2 separate regions of the Homo sapiens genome follow, and region 1 is linked to region 2. The links come from fine-mapping of genetic effects on gene expression. A gene starts in region 2. The other region holds a variant in brackets. All regions are shown on one strand. Distances are from middle to middle. Region 1 holds the start of LOC105372878 (a long non-coding RNA gene). Region 2 holds the start of IL20 (interleukin 20).

The links. PIP is the estimated chance that this variant, and not a neighbour inherited with it, causes the effect.
Region 1: its variant is fine-mapped to the expression of IL20 in testis (GTEx, PIP 0.97).

Annotation. Positions count from the first base shown.
Region 1 is chr1:206,841,250-206,845,615 of GRCh38, forward strand. It overlaps IL19 (interleukin 19), which reads left to right. Exons shown (of 7, transcript NM_153758.5): 7 at 1,278-1,732. The coding sequence ends at 1,373. LOC105372878 (a long non-coding RNA gene) reads right to left here and starts at 1,572. Exons shown (of 3, transcript XR_922482.3): 1 at 1,260-1,572; 2 at 174-469. The variant A/G (reference allele first, on the strand shown) is at 1,631.
Region 2 is chr1:206,863,596-206,867,987 of GRCh38, forward strand. IL20 (interleukin 20) reads left to right here and starts at 2,028. Exons shown (of 6, transcript NM_018724.4): 1 at 2,028-2,091; 2 at 2,228-2,416; 3 at 2,704-2,769; 4 at 2,889-3,041; 5 at 3,789-3,863. The coding sequence starts at 2,258.

The DNA of each region.
Region 1 (4,366 bases), 22 kb before region 2:
GCTAATCTCCTGGGCTCCCCATCTCCATCATTCCTCCACCATTTTCTCATACCCTCATATATCAAGCCTGACCTGTATGATTTGGGGAAAGCACCCACTGCTTAAGATGGGATGACACAGAGGGAGCAAAGATCCCCCATGAAATGTGAGCTGTTACGCCTGAAACGTGTTACCTGCACGCCGTCACTGCGATCACTACCTGCCCCCCCATATTGTGTGTAGTGATGAAGACATGGTACTTCTCATGTTGATGTTGGTGTAAAATGCACATCTCACGTGGAGGTAGAGGAAGAAGCAGTGTTTCTCATGAGCATCAGTTCAAGATCTTGTTAAAATGCAGATTCTGGCTCAGCAGGGCTGGGATGAGCCTGAGTTTCTGCATTTAGATCACACTGTCAAATGATACCAATGCTTTGAAGAGCAAGAGTTAGGGAGTCTGTTATGGGCTCTGCTTCTTTGTGGAGAGACTCTGTAAGATAATGTTATAGAAATAGCTAAGAGTTACATGGTTCTTACTATAAGCCAGGTATTGCTCTAGGCACACAACAAGTATTAACACACATTCGTCCTTCCCAACAATGCTATGAGTCATTATCTGCATTGGATACATTAAGAAACTGAGGCTCGAGCAGGTAAAGTAACTAAACTAAGTTCACACTGCAACTGCACGGCAGAGGTAGGATTCAATTCCACGCTGGCTGGCTCTACAGGACGCGCTAAAAGCATGAACTCAGTCTGCTGAGGAAGGAGGTGGAATAAGGCAGGAGACTTGGGTTTCATTTCCAGCTCTGTTACTAACTGGCTGTGTGACATTGGGTAGGACACTTGCTCTAGGGGCTTTAGTGCTCTAATATGTCAAATGAGGACAACATGCTCTCCCTACCCACTGTCCAGCACCTCAGGGACAAAGATGTTCTGGGATAACAGAAGCACTAAAGCAAGCTGGTGTGGAGAAGAAAATCAGCGGAACTGGCCAGTAAGGCAGATTTTTTTTTCCTGTGAAAAACAGAGGAAAAAAAAACCTGAGGGAAAAGAATGAAGAATTTTAAAGTTCTGTTTATAAGGAGCTGACATAATTTAACTACTTGTTTGTGGGGAAAAAAATTGGTTGCCTGCGAGGAAAATAATATTGAGTCTGTATGTTATGCAAATATATTTCGTGACAAAAAAACAAAAACAGAAACAAAACCTTGTGGGAACCAGCATATGAAGAAAGTGACTTGAAAACCATTACACAGTCTAGAAAGGTGGGTTCTTACATTGATCTCTGATTTCAGCTGGAGGTCCACGCTGCTGCCATTAAATCCCTGGGAGAGCTCGACGTCTTTCTAGCCTGGATTAATAAGAATCATGAAGTAATGTTCTCAGCTTGATGACAAGGAACCTGTATAGTGATCCAGGGATGAACACCCCCTGTGCGGTTTACTGTGGGAGACAGCCCACCTTGAAGGGGAAGGAGATGGGGAAGGCCCCTTGCAGCTGAAAGTCCCACTGGCTGGCCTCAGGCTGTCTTATTCCGCTTGAAAATAGCCAAAAAGTCTACTGTGGTATTTGTAATAAACTCTATCTGCTGAAAGGGCCTGCAGGCCATCCTGGGAGTAAAGGGCTGCCTTCCCATCTAATTTATTGT[A/G]AAGTCATATAGTCCATGTCTGTGATGTGAGCCAAGTGATATCCTGTAGTACACATTGTACTGAGTGGTTTTTCTGAATAAATTCCATATTTTACCTATGAATGGAAGGATCTTTTCATTCAGGGAGAGTCAGTCAAGACTGAGGACAGGGTGTTTCTGACAGAGGGATGGTTGTCATGGTGACAAAGCTGAACAAGCACAGACACAAGTAAGTAGAGAGGCCACTGGGTAGAGAGGCTGAAAAGGGTACCAACATCTAGATGGACACTGCATAGATGATTCAGAGCACAAATGTGTATCTTTCAGATTTCATATCACATGCTTTAATGGAAAGAACAAGACCTCTGAAGTCCAATTGATCTGGTTCCAATCCTATGTGACTTTGAACAAAGCACTTAACGTTTCTAAGACTCAGTGTCCTCTGTTGTAAAGTGGAGATATTAACACCAGTCCTGTAGTGTTGCTGTGAGCATCGAGTAAGGAAAAGGTCTCTCATGACCTCAGCAGGGTGGGAGACAGCACGGTGCAATATAAAGACTGCCGACTCAGGGGCCACCTTCTGGTTCTAAGGCATCTCCTGCCATGAATTTCCCAGGGCAGGTCAGTACATTTCTTTGGTCCTTAGTTGTTAGTATTGTGGATACTGACCCTTCTGTACTACCTGCTCCATATAATTATTTATTTATTTATGGAGACAGGGTCTCACTTTGTCACCCAGGCTGGAGCACAGTGGCATGGTCATAGCTCACTGTAGTCTCAAACTCCTAGCTCAATCAATCCTCCCTCCTCGGCCTCCCAAAGTTCTGGCATTACAGACTTAAGCCACCACACCTGCCTCTATAATCATTTAAAAGCTGGAGTCATTATGAGGGCTTTGACAACCCTGATATCTGCACACACACCCCTCCTGGCTGTTTTCCCTAACTGTGTCCCTGCTCCTTCCCCAGGCTCACTGTGACCCAGCCATAGTTGTTTGCTCTGTGTTTCGCAAACACACCAGGCATGTTCTCACCATACAGTGTATGCACTTTGTGTACATGCACACTCATAAACTGAGGTAGGGTTAAAAAATAAAACAAACCCTCCACACATTATGCGTTAATGGGATTCATACGCTATTAGGGAGCAGGGTTGTTTGCTGAGGACCTAACTTTTCCAAAGTGACCTTGGATGGGCACCCACCCTGAGCAGGCTGGGTGATGGCAGTTATAGCATTTCTGATCTTTTATCACTGCCCTGGGATGTGCTTCCCCTGGACACCTGCATGGCTTGCACCTCCACGTCTTTCAGACCTTCACTCCAAAGGTCTCGTATTGGAGGATAACCCCCCATTTCCACCTTCAGCACACTTTGTACCCCTTTCCTGTTTATCTAGCATCCTATTTTGTTTATTAGCTGCTCCTCCACATGAATGTAAGCTTCATGAGTGTAGGGATGGTTTAGTTTGTTCACTGCCTGGCACTTAGTAGGTGTTAAATTCACAATTCACCTAGATTATTTATTCAAGAAATGTGAATAACCACAAACATGTATATAGTGCTTCCTATATGCCAGCCGATAGTCTAAGAAATACACTTCTTGTAATATAATATAATATAAATACATATATATATATTTCATTTAATTCTCACAACAATCCTATTGTAGGTTTTTAGAATGAAATAAAATGAAAAAGGCCACCTCATTGATTGTTAGCAGTATGGATAATTAAACCCTAAGAAGGAAACTAGGCACAGAGAGCTTAAGTAACTTACCCTAGGCCACATATCGCATAAGTAGAAGAGCTGAGCTTCCAATCCAGGCAGCCACATTCCAGAATGAACTATAATGTCCACAATAATGTACATATGTTGAGTTCATCATGTGCCAGGCACCAAGGTGAGAACTTAACTTATGGCTCCTCCTTTACTCCTCACGATAGTTCTCTAAGGTACGATTATAATTATAATGTGAATAACTCTGCACTTTGGGAGGCTGAGGTGGGTGGATCACTAGGTCAGGAGTTCGAGACCAGCCAGGTCAACACGGTGAAACTCCGTCTCTACTAAAAATAGAAAAAATAGCCAGGCATGGTGGCGGGCACCTATAATCCCAGCTACTGGGGAGGCTGAGGCAAGAGAATTGCTTGAACTCGGGTGGCAGAGGTTGCAGTGAGCTGAGATTGCTTCATTGCACTCCAGCCTGGGTGACAGAGCTAGACTCTGTCTCAAAAAAAAAAAAAAATTGTCTGGAGATTAGTGAGGTTTGACAATACACCTAAGGCCATGTTTCTAGTTGTACAACAGAGATTCAAACTCCGGGTGTCCTACTCCAAAGCCTGAGCCCTCCATCATGATGGTTTGTGGCTTGTGCATCTTGCTCATGTGACAAGAAGCCCACAAGAGAAGGTGATTTACTGGCATAATGACCTGCACCTGTAGGAAATATTGTTATTATCAATGGTAGTAGAAGTACTAGTAGGAGAGGAGGAGGAGCAGGAGGAAGATAATTGAAGAAGAGCTCATCCTTTCTGAAATGGCTAGTATCTTGCTTAAAACTCTCCTAGGTCTCTTGTTTGCTTCCTTTCCCCGTCTACTTTTCCTTTCTCTTTTTTCAGACTTGAAGAATATGTCCCAATGCTTTTTGAGTTCGCAGTAGTTCTGGCATAGTGGGGTGTGTGTGTGTGTGTGTGCGTGTGTGTTTGTGTGTGTTTCTTCACAGAGCTGGTGCTTAAGAAATACATGCTAAGAAGCCAAG
Region 2 (4,392 bases):
TCCTGAGCTCAGGTAAGAGATCTTACCCTCTACTGACACTGCTCACGTTGTTGTGAGGATCACCTACTTCTCCTAATCATTTACCCAGGTATGTTCAAGGTCACATCTAAAGGACCCTTTTCCACGAGGACAAAATCTCTTTGAGGACAAATAATCATCATGTTTATCTTTGTACTTCAGTACCTAGCACAACATTCAAGACAGCGGGTGCTCATTAAATGCTCATCAAATTGTTAGTTCAGGACAACTAACATCAATCTCTACTTAAAATGAATTGATCACTTGCTCTGTGCTAAGTGTATAAATCATAGATTATTGTATTTAAATAATCGATTTAAAATCAAAACAATTTCTGGGTTAAGTTTAATTATCACCATTTTGGGGTTAAGAAAATTAAACTCAGAGGTGAGTTGACTTGTCCAAGGTCACATAGAGGTAGGGTGGCCAACTCATTCCAGTTTACCTGTGGTTTTTCCAGTTTTAAAACTGAAATTTTCGTATTTCAGGAACCATTCCCTGCCCCCCAACCTCAGTGCTGGGTAAACTGGAATGACCCACATCAATGGAAACTAGTAAAGCGAGGATTTATTTGGACCCAGTTCTCTTGTCTCCAAACCCAGAGTCCTCTTTGATTCTTTTGGGTTTGGTTTGCTTTTTTCCTTTTCCTACATTTGACAGTATCTCGAGTGGTCACAAATGTAAAAAATGTCTAGCATATTGCCTGGCATATAGGAAAAATTCAGTAAGTGATAATGATTATCAGTGCTGTGCCAAGCTATGGAGCCAGCCATATATATATGGATGTGTGCATATATATATATGATGTGTGTGTATATATATATGTCTTTATAAATTTTATGTATTTATTTCTTTCAAAAATATTAAAGTATTTGAGAAAATTGAAAAATTAAAAAGTAGGTTTATTACGACTCATGACTTTAAGTTTAAATATTTTATTTCTGCCCCAAACAAAATTTATTATAATTTTACTGTCCTGGTTTTAAGGGAAGGAAACTCATCAATAATATTTTCATCATATGCTTTTGAGAAACAAAGTTAACCATTAAGAATGAAACATGAAAACATGTGAATAGTGGTACAAATTTTTCCTTTTGCTTCAATATGGCTCAGCATGGCACTGTCGAATTTTGTCTTTATATAAAATTTTGATATTTTGTTTGTCATAAGCTTTTTAATTCATTTTGATATTGCACTAAAATATTTTTATCTTGATGACTGAGGTTTTTTAGTGCTCCCTTAAATTTTGCACCTAAAATGAGTGCCTCAATTGTTTTACCCTAACCTCAGCCCATTATTATTTTATCTTAAAACTCAGCAAACACCCTAACCTGCTCTCTTACTGAGGAGGCTCGCCCAAGAATAAATGAGTTCCGTCATTGCCTTTCTTCTCTGACTTTTGGGACCATTTGCTTGGTCTAGGACCTGAGTTGCAGGTCCAGGAAAGCGTGTACTCTCGAATCCACCCAGGAGTGCCTGACTACAGTCCTCCTGCAGAGGGCGCTGTGGAGTCCCAGACACGAGTGTTAGGTGGAATCGGGCTGATTGCCCATCACGTCTTGCCTTTCCCTGGCAGTAGGCTTGTTATGAAATCATTGACTTTCTATTTGCCTCTGGGGCTTAAGCGAATCTGTTACCCTCAAATAACCTATCTGATCTCAGACAAATGCCAAACAGAGCTCAGTTTCTCTGCCCTGTGGGTGGCCATAAAATCCAGACAATTTCCCCCTAGGTGTTTTCGATGGCGCAGCCACAGCTTCTGTGAGATTCGATTTCTCCCCAGTTCCCCTGTGGGTCTGAGGGGACCAGAAGGGTGAGCTACGTTGGCTTTCTGGAAGGGGAGGCTATATGCGTCAATTCCCCAAAACAAGTTTTGACATTTCCCCTGAAATGTCATTCTCTATCTATTCACTGCAAGTGCCTGCTGTTCCAGGCCTTACCTGCTGGGCACTAACGGCGGAGCCAGGATGGGGACAGAATAAAGGAGCCACGACCTGTGCCACCAACTCGCACTCAGACTCTGAACTCAGACCTGAAATCTTCTCTTCACGGGAGGCTTGGCAGTTTTTCTTAGTAAGTTGCGTGGATGGGCCACACTGTCTGAGGCCAGATAAGGCTGTTCTCTTCCCCTGACCCCCCACCCCTCACCCCGTGGACACTTGGAGGAGGGGAAACTCAGTAAGTCATGCTCTCTTCTTTGAATTCCTAGCTCCTGTGGTCTCCAGATTTCAGGCCTAAGATGAAAGCCTCTAGTCTTGCCTTCAGCCTTCTCTCTGCTGCGTTTTATCTCCTATGGACTCCTTCCACTGGACTGAAGACACTCAATTTGGGAAGCTGTGTGATCGCCACAAACCTTCAGGAAATACGAAATGGATTTTCTGAGATACGGGGCAGTGTGGTACGTAAGCGGGTATCTACCTCTCCTGAAAGCCTTTTCTCTTCCTTCCTTGTCCGTTTCTCTTTCCTGGCAGTACTGGCAGTGTAATCATAAAAAGAGGCAGGCTGGGGATTCCTTACCCGGGGGATGTATTCCAAAGAAATAACTGTAGTTCAAATATTTAAAATGTTTTGGGAAAGGACACCTCCCACTAGTTCTTGGCAGGGAGTGGATGAGAAGTCTTGATATTGAAGACCCTGGCAGCAGGCACTGACTCATCCTTGCTTGTTTTGTCTTCTTCTGTTTAGCAAGCCAAAGATGGAAACATTGACATCAGAATCTTAAGGAGGACTGAGTCTTTGCAAGACACAAAGGTATGTGCTTGGCCCAGACAAACTCTGGGAGGAGGAGTGGAGTGGGAGCATCTCCATCACCCTGGTCTTGTCTCTGCTCTCCCCTTTCCCCTCACCAATATACCTGTGGTTTTTTGCAGCCTGCGAATCGATGCTGCCTCCTGCGCCATTTGCTAAGACTCTATCTGGACAGGGTATTTAAAAACTACCAGACCCCTGACCATTATACTCTCCGGAAGATCAGCAGCCTCGCCAATTCCTTTCTTACCATCAAGAAGGACCTCCGGCTCTGTGTGAGTGTGGGTCTTGGGTGACAGGATGCATCTCAGCACACAGCTTCAATGGCTTAGCAACTAAACTCTCTTTCCTACCTCCATTTAATGGATGGAGAAACTGAGTCCAAAAGTTCTAATAATCTGTGTTGAGACATGTGACTAGGTAATAAGAACTCAGTTTTATTGACTTTTCGGTATATGCTCTAGGCAAAAAGTACTTTGCAAAGTCTAAAGAACTATAAGATGCTAACTATTTGATATTAATGATAACTCTGTTGTCTTTGAAATTATACTTTTTCTGTAGGTGAGGTATCCTACAGTATATTAGTGCGTCCTCTGTCTAGGCAGTCAATTAGTAGACCATTGAGCTTGACCTCAGAATATAGTCTGAATAGGACCTAGGAATTCAATTCTTTTTTTTTTTTTTCTCATGGGGGCTCAAAGAGCTCTGGGATAGAGCTCCTAGACTACAGCTGGGGGTTGTGGGGAGGCCAGATGGGGTACGGGGATGGCAAATGCCTTCAGTACTGCCTGCCTATTTCTAAAAAAGAAGTGATGAGTTCCATGTTTGAGCCTAAAAGGTGGCTTCCTCTCCTAGCTGATGATGAACTTAGTGATTCCAAATGTGAGGTCTGAAAGAGCTTTTCTATAGGAATAAGCATCCTCAGGGTTGTGGGTGAAAGAGTAGAGTTTCTGCCTGCTTCATGTCAATGGCAAAAAATCAGAATCTGTAATATAATCTATTATTCTTTGGGTCCTTTTCAGCATGCCCACATGACATGCCATTGTGGGGAGGAAGCAATGAAGAAATACAGCCAGATTCTGAGTCACTTTGAAAAGGTATATGCGACTTTGGCATTGATTGGGATGGGTGTGTTTTAAGAACTGAGATCATAGGTAGGTGGGATGGTTATTCACTGTTAGACATCCTGTAGCCTTCAGGTTCATAGCCCTCTGAAATCATGAGGACCAGCCCTTGCTTTAACCCAGGGGACACCCATCCAGGCTCTAGAGGAGTACCCTCTCTGGGTGATGCTCTGGAAATGGAAAGGGAATGGCCATGATTCCATCAAGTCACTACAGTGACATCTGGATCTTTTAGCTGCACAAACCAGAGGCAATAGTTTTACAATGTTCACACACTTCTATGTACCTTTGAAAACACTCACAATTTCACACACACACCCATGCCATTCAATTTCTCACCTTCACACCTTCTCATGTCTGCCAGGAAGGCCTGGATTTCACTCCTCACTGACTAAATCCTACTCATCCTTTAAAGACTCAGCCTGGGCATCACTTTCAGGAAGGTGCTGGCTCCTTCTCTCAGAGTTAGATGCCTCCCACATCATCTTGTAGGAATTTCATC